2 linked regions of the Homo sapiens genome follow. The protein of the gene in region 2 purifies or fractionates together with the protein of the main gene of each other region. This does not show direct contact. Each region holds a gene or a part of one and is shown on either strand. Other genes may lie near its edges.

Region 1 (3,748 bases), on a different chromosome or scaffold from region 2:
GTGTAAAAATGAGCAATGGAAAAAGATGTCCAATCACATAAAATGTTTTTGTCAAAATGGAATTATGAATGCTTTAGTAAACTGGAAGAAATATCTCTGAAGAATTTAGAAGAAAGTTGTCAGCAAAGCATTTATGGATGTAGTATTTGACCTGGGTCCTCCTTGCTACTTAAATCAGTTGGAATATTAACCTATGTTAATAGTGCAGCTGGAAGAGTAGTGGTTCCGTTCTCATTCTGGAGGGATGTTTTCATTCTGGCCCTGTCTGTTTGCTGTTTGATAAGAGAGTGGGAAAGGGAGGGGGTTATAAAGTCGTGATTTATTCACAAGGGCAAAGGGAAGGACAAGGAACTTGAGAAAATTACTCCATCTAGGGTTTCTGATCCATCATCATCCTTGTTCTGCGCTCACTCAGCCGTATCCAGCTCTACTGGGCATATCACTATTATTGCTATCAATTGTTTTGCTAGTTGCTTAGTCCCAAATCATTATCATCTTTTCTGTCATTCCACATTTAGGTATTTTATTCAACAAATAGACTGAATGCCTATTATATACCAGACACTCTTCTAAAGCACTGGGGAAAGATAGAGCATGGATCAAAACAACTTCCTGTTCTCCTGGAGTCTACAATTTTGTTTGGTGGTAGTGGAAGCGTAACTAAATATATATGATAAGTGCTATAGAGAAAAGCAAATTAGGGTTAGAATGGAACGAGATGCCCCGCTGGCCTGTAAGCTCCAGGAGGACGAGGACCTGCCCTCTCATTAAGGTATTTTCCGTGCTTAGAATGGTGTCTGCTACGTAGTAGATATCTATTATTGGTTGAATGAATAAGTGATGTTGACCATAGATAAATTAGTTCAAAACTTAGATTTTCAAATTATGTCAGTAGCAGGCACACATCTTAAATTGTTATATCACTCCAGTGCACGTCTTGCTGAAATTCAGAAGAGGAAGCTATTTCGTATGAAGCCAATAACCTCAAATCAGAAATGAAAACTGGGATATCACCTGTCATATCACTTGCCATCCTCGGCTAAGCCAGGAGAGTGTCCGGCCCAATATTCGGTAGCCTGGATACGTAGGTGTATTTAGTGAACGAAAGAATGAATCCTAGCCACTGCAAAGCTGCAAAACCCTCGGGGGTAGTGCTTGGCTTCTGCCAGTTCCACAAGTATTTTAATATTAGCTGAACAAATGAAATGACCAAAAAATAAATCGCGATTTTGTGTCAGATGAACTTGGGAAGGCGGATGCGCTTAGGGTCCGGCTGTAGCGAGTAAGACACTCCCTGCGAAGAGTTCTGTGGGGTACGAACTCCGGACTGCGAGTCCAGCTCACGAGTTTGTACCTAAAACCTTGCCCTGCGGGAGCGACGCTGTCCTAACGCGACCTGCCCTGCCCGTCAGCTCCTATTGGCTGACTCTCGGAAGACCCGCCTCTTGAGAAGGAAAAGCAGTCGCTTCCCGAATTGCCTGACATCATGCAATGACCAATCAGAAGCAGCGATCTTCAGTTTTGCCCAATGAGGCTGGTTACGGGTCCTGGCCCGCGGAGTTTGATTTCGTCCTGGGATGCGGAAGTAGCAGTCCTGTCATGCGGAAGTAGCAGTCCGGTCCTAGGGACTAGCAGGTGGGTTGGTTGGGCGCAGGAGGACGGGGGCGCGCTTCCCATAACATTACCCTGGCTGAGCGTGAGGCTCCAGGGCTGGGCACCGGGTTGACCTCTTATTCCTCGCTGAGGGCATCGTTACCGCCTGTGGCTGCAAGCCGAGGCGCGCGGGTGGAAACTGGGTCGAGGTCTGGGTAGACGTCTGAGCGATCTGCACAAGGAGTGGCGCAGTCTGGAATTTGATTGAGGATTCCTAACGCCCTCCGCTTGATGTTCTGGTGATTCCCGGGGGCTCGGCTTCGGAGGAAGGTGAGCAAGGCTACCACGCTGTGTTTGGAGAGCACCAGGAAGCTTGTGACCAAAGCGAGGGACGCGATCCGGCTCTGGTCACGGCCTGTTACTAGATGGGTGACCAAGTCACGTCCCGTATCTGGAATTCATGCTTCTCATTTTAAAAGAGTGAGGAGGGATGGGCATTCCACATGGCTGGGGAGGCCTCACAATCATTGCTGAAGGCAAATGAGTAGCAAAGTCACATTTTACATGGTGGCAGGCAAGAGGGCTTGTGCAGGGGAACTCCTGTTGATAAAACCATCACATCTCATGAGACTTATTCACTACCACGAGCATAGTATGGGGGAAGCTGCCCCCATGATTCAGTTATCTTCACCTGGCCCCACCCTTGACACGTGAGGATATGTGTGTGAGAAGAGCTACTGTTTATTTTTTTAAAAACTGAGTCGTCCCTTGCCTGCTTTCAAGGGTTGGCTAAACTCACCCATCTGCTAAGAGTCTCAGCCCAAAGCTTTCAGGAAAGAGCGAGCTTCGCTGTGGCATGTAACTTGAAGCCTTGCCTACTAAGTAGATGTCCAGTTTGTTGATTGGTCTCTATTAACTAGGCTCAAACATCCTACGAGGTTTTAATGTAATCTAACCAATTAATTGAAATTTCCTTTACAACCCTCTCTTTCCCCCAGACTTCCCCTTCCTTTCTTTTTCTCTGACTTAAAAGAATGCTGGCTAGGAGAAATTAGTTGACTGTGTCGTGTATCAAGAGGACTTTTCCAGGTTATGTAGTACAATTTGGCATTTATTTGTCAAGAGTAACATTTTCTAAAATTTTCCCCAAAGGCACCAAGAAACTGATAATGTTCCTTTGAATTGGCTTCTGTATTTGCTTCATCAATGTCTCTCATACTGAATATCTTAAGAGAGATGCTGGAATATTTTGGCGTTCCTGTAGAACAGGTAAATGTCGTTTTGGATTGGAATGGATCTGTTGTATTTGTTCTTGGGTTTCATTTTGAAAATGACTTATATGTAATCATTTGATTTAAGGCAAAGTTGTTGCTTCTTTTTAGTTGGAACAAAGGTGAGTTTGTAATAGTATAGCTTTGATGATTTGAGTTAGAAGAGGGATAAGATTATTGAGAACATATTTACCTGATAGGACAAATGCCAACAGAAGATACAAAGGAAGCAAAATATAGACATGAGCTTCACAGAATTACATTTATTGCACAGATACATTAAAACTTCTATTCAAGGTAATTTATAAACAAGTTCAATATTTAAAGCTCAATAAATCCAGAATAAATCTAATGGAAAGAGGATGATTTAGGCCTGAGAATTATAAGCTGTATTAGTCTGTTCTCATGCTGCTAATAAAGACATACCGGAGACTGGGTAATTTATAAAGGAAAGAGGTTTAATTGACTCACAGTTCCACATGGCTGGGGAGGCCTCACAATCATTGCTGAAGGCAAATGAGTAGCAAAGTCACATTTTACATGGTGGCAGGCAAGAGAGCTTGTGCAGGGGAACTCCTGTTTATAAAACCATCACATCTCATGAGACTTATTCACTACCACGAGCATAGTATGGGAGAAGCTGCCCCCATGATTCAGTTATCTTCACCTGGCCCCACCCTTGACACGTGAGGATAATTACAATTCAAGGTGAGATTTGGGTGGGGACACAGCCAAACCATATCATAAGCAAATCAAATTTTATCTACTTGTTGAAAATCTGCTGTATCTAAGACAATATGCTTGTTTCTGCAGGTAATACAGAGGAGTAATACATGGTTGTATTCATAATGCTTAAAATATGAGGAATAAGAAACAATAAAGAT
Region 2 (3,748 bases):
ATAAAAAGTAAGAGTCATGGCCATTCCAGCCACTGGTTCTAATTACAGACGATAGCCATATCAACACTTCCTGTGTTTCCTCCCAAACCATTATTCTTACAGCAACATGTATGTGCCTGTGTTATTACCCACATAGCACCTTACTGTATACTAACTCTAAAAAATGGAAAATGATTACATTCTTGTGGTGTTTTGTAAACCTGACAATACTTTTCTGCATCATCATTTTCTAGTCACCCTCCTGCTTTTTCATGGTTGTTTAATGTGCCATTTTAATGGTTCAAAATTAGTGGTTAATTGTTGTTAAATAATGATTAATGTTTTAATAGTTGTTTAAAACAAGGTGTTAGATTGTATGAAAGGCTGTAATCTATTTACTCATTCCACCAATAATGGAAATTTTTAAAGTAATTTGTTGTTTTGTTTGTTTGCTACATGCCACTATTTCTGTATCAGTTTCCTTCATCATAGCTCTCTCGGTGCTGATGTCAGCACAATCTTATTGTTTTGACATTTTTCTCTAACCATATTGAGACTGTTCTCACAACAAAATATGCACATCTTAAAATACCATCTGGCTTCTCAGGTCCACTTGAGACTGGTGACCTCACTTTTGACCTTGCCCTAAAAGTCAACTGGAGTCCATATACCTCAGGTACAAACAGCTTTAATAAGCTGCCACTTCCTGTTCCTCTCATCTTCTCTCTATGGCAGGACTCAGAGCATTAACTAACCTAAGGGCCTGGTAGAATGTAAGCTGGAGGTAGAGTAGTTAAAGTCTGTGCATTTTGTACTGGTCATTTTCCAGTTCGTCTGTTGCTAAGAAACAGCAACAGAGGCCCGCTCTAGAGGGTTACAAACTCCCTGGAATTATGGCTCCCGGACATGGTGTAGGGAAAGGTGTCCCACAGGGATCAAGCCTAGAATATCGCTGGATCTTGTACAGTTTAGTAAAGGGCAGGACTGGATTTAACATAACGTCCACCAAACTACATTACTGAAAATTTTTGGTGCTTCACTCAACTAGTCTCATTGACTAGAAGTGAAAATATGTTTTTCTCAATATTACCAGCTTTAAATTTGCCATAAACTGTTGTGGGACCAAGCCACAGAGGAAATGTTTTTCCGCTAGACAAAGATAAGCATGAGGATGCCAGCAACAGAGGATATTCCTTTTAAGGTCTGTCCATTGCAAAGTACACACGTACACGCTCACACAACAAACACGCCCTGTTCCCTTTTGCTTGTGTTAACCACTGAGGGCAGATCTCTGAATAATAATACATTTAGTGGGTCCACAAGAGCTGCATTTCCTCTGCTCCAGAATTCATGCAAGGAGCACGGCTGGGGCTTCTCCACTGTCATTGTTATGGCCTCAAATGAAGGCCTTGTCACCAGGCGGGGGCGGGAAGGCACTGGAGCGCAGCAGCATTGAGAGCATCCGAATTCCCTCCTCTGTCCCTGATTGGTTGAAGAACTGGGGAGCACCGACCAGCCCCCTGCGGCTCGACTCGCCATTGGCTGGGAAGAGGTGGCAATCAGGGCGGGCCAAGGCGGCTGTTCTCGCTCCAGCTCGATGCTGCCTCCCCGGCCCGGTTGCGCTGTAGCCGCTGCCGCCTCTGCCTGGGTCCCTTCGGCCGTACCTCTGCGTGGGGGCTGCCTCCCCGGCTCCCGGTGCAGACACCATGGTAAGTGCTCTCAGCCGGGTGCGGCCCGAACCTCACCCCTCCTCGGCCGGCCTGGCAGCGAGGGAACTGGCCGCGCAGCCGGAGCTTGGCTCGGGGGCCCTGGGCGCTCACTGCCGGCCACGGGAGCAGCCTCACTCCTTGCCCGCGCCCAGTCAGGGGAGGTGGGAACGCCGCGAGTCGTGGCGGGGGCGATCGGTGCCTTTGCTTCCCAGGCGGGTTTGCCGCTCCACACCGCAGCTTCCTGAGCTCGGGAAGGGGAGGTGCGGCGGAGGCGTGGGGTCTTCCCGGCTCTGGCCGGCCCCACCAGTGTGGGAGGCTGAGCGCCAGCGGAAGGGAAGGCTCCGGGTTCGCGTCCCCGCGCTGCCCCCGATGCCCAGCCTCTCCCGGAGCGGTGACAGGTGAGGAGGGTGGGAAGATAGCGTGGGGGTGGGGCGGATGGTGACGGGGAGAATCCACCAGGGATTGGGGGGTTGCGCCCCCACGATCCGACTCCTTTAGTGCATAGTACCCCTAAGGGAGAGGAGTCAGGGGCGGGGTGAAAGGTTAAGCCAGCGCCATGGGAGCAGAGGCAGCAGCCTCGCCCCCAAGCCGCTTCTCAGGTACAGCGGGTCCCTGACGCTCAAGTCTCTCCCTGTCCCCGCAGTACGGATTTGTGAATCACGCCCTGGAGTTGCTGGTGATCCGCAATTACGGCCCCGAGGTGTGGGAAGACATCAAGTAAGTGGCCGGCTACCCTGGCTGTGGCCCAGGTCGGCGCCCAGTGTGGGAGGCCCCCCGCGCCTCGCCTGGTCCTCAGCCTGCTGGCCGGGTCGCGGGCGCGCATCCTTGGAGGTGCCTCCGCGCCTCGCTCCCGGCTCGCTGCAGCTGCGCTCCCACGCTCCGGGACTGGAACCAGGAGGGGAGGGGCGGCTGGGGCGGGGCTGCGAGGGCGAGAACCGCGGAAAGGAGCCCCTAGGGGTCACCACGGCTTCCCGACCCGGCCTGAGCGTGGGAACGCGCTGCCGGCGCTCCCAGGCTCAGCAGGCCGGGCAGCTCCCACGCGTGCAGAGCCCCGAGGGACCACACGGGCCTCCGCGAGGTTCCTGCGCCCGGAGGCCTTAGAAACAAACGGAAGACTTTGGCTCCTTTATGATTTACACACCTGGCGTAAGTTAGGCCTTTTTGGTATGCTGAAACACGCGGGAGATTATTTCTTGAGCAACAGTGAATTAAGCGCATTTATTCATTTTTAAATAAAGTGAAAATTGGAAGTTTTTTGTTTTCCCCAAATCCCACTGCCCACCCCCCCCGCCCCAACCCCTATCCCCCGTTTTTTTCTACTGTGTTGAAGACTTAACAGTTCTAGGAGGCATTCTACTTTCAGTCCTGGAGCTTTGAGCCCAGTACTGGGGATGTGAACGGAAATACCACACCCACCTGAGAGTTTAAACCTGTTGGAATGACTGATGGGTCAGCATGTCTGCAGGCAGGTTGACTATTTCACTCTAATAAAGTTGTCTCTCCTTTTTCCTCTCACTCTCAAAAAATTTGCATTTAACTTATGGTACAGCTGACCACCACCAACTAGCTACTCCAAAACCCTATTTATGGATTTTCATATTAGAGCAACAGTCAGACTATCACATTGTAACAAAGGTGGAAGGAAGGGTTTCCTGGGTGGGCAGATGGGAATACACTGTTATTATTCACTCTGATTTCCTGTACTTAGTGATTTCATTTTGTTGTCTCAGGTAGGTGAGGCTTCCATGCTGTTTTTCCCTAAGCACATTACAATTATTAGCAATCAATTCTAACAGGCCTTATTATGCAGTTACATGATGGTGATTTCTCATAACGATCTGTTTCCATAGAAATGACCAGGGTTATATATTAAGCACGAAAATGTAACTTTTCTTTCCCCTGGATCTGTATCACTGAGCGTTTCTTTCATGTTTCAGAAACCATTTGTATTATCCACAGGGCATATTACCTACATATTATAAACAGAAGCCGAGATTTGGCAAGTATGTGGTTGAATCCAATGAGAACATAGGCACCAAAAGTTACTTTAGGATTTGAAT

The links.
Region 1: the proteins of GUCY1B1 (region 2) and MTFR2 purify together in Homo sapiens (affinity purification with mass spectrometry; 2 studies listed by BioGRID and IntAct, with this or other methods). This does not show direct contact.

What each region holds. Positions count from the first base shown.
Region 1 is NC_000006.12:136,248,151-136,251,898, reverse strand, and holds the start of MTFR2 (mitochondrial fission regulator 2), read left to right. Parts: upstream 1-1,587; 5' UTR 1,588-1,923; intron 1,924-2,745; 5' UTR 2,746-2,799; coding exon 2,800-2,862; intron 2,863-3,748. UniProt on the Homo sapiens protein: May play a role in mitochondrial aerobic respiration essentially in the testis. Can also promote mitochondrial fission.
Region 2 is NC_000004.12:155,757,456-155,761,203, forward strand, and holds the start of GUCY1B1 (guanylate cyclase soluble subunit beta-1), read left to right. Parts: upstream 1-1,565; 5' UTR 1,566-1,685; coding exon 1,686-1,688; intron 1,689-1,900; exon of another isoform or gene 1,901-2,086; intron 2,087-2,331; coding exon 2,332-2,405; intron 2,406-3,748. UniProt on the Homo sapiens protein: Mediates responses to nitric oxide (NO) by catalyzing the biosynthesis of the signaling molecule cGMP.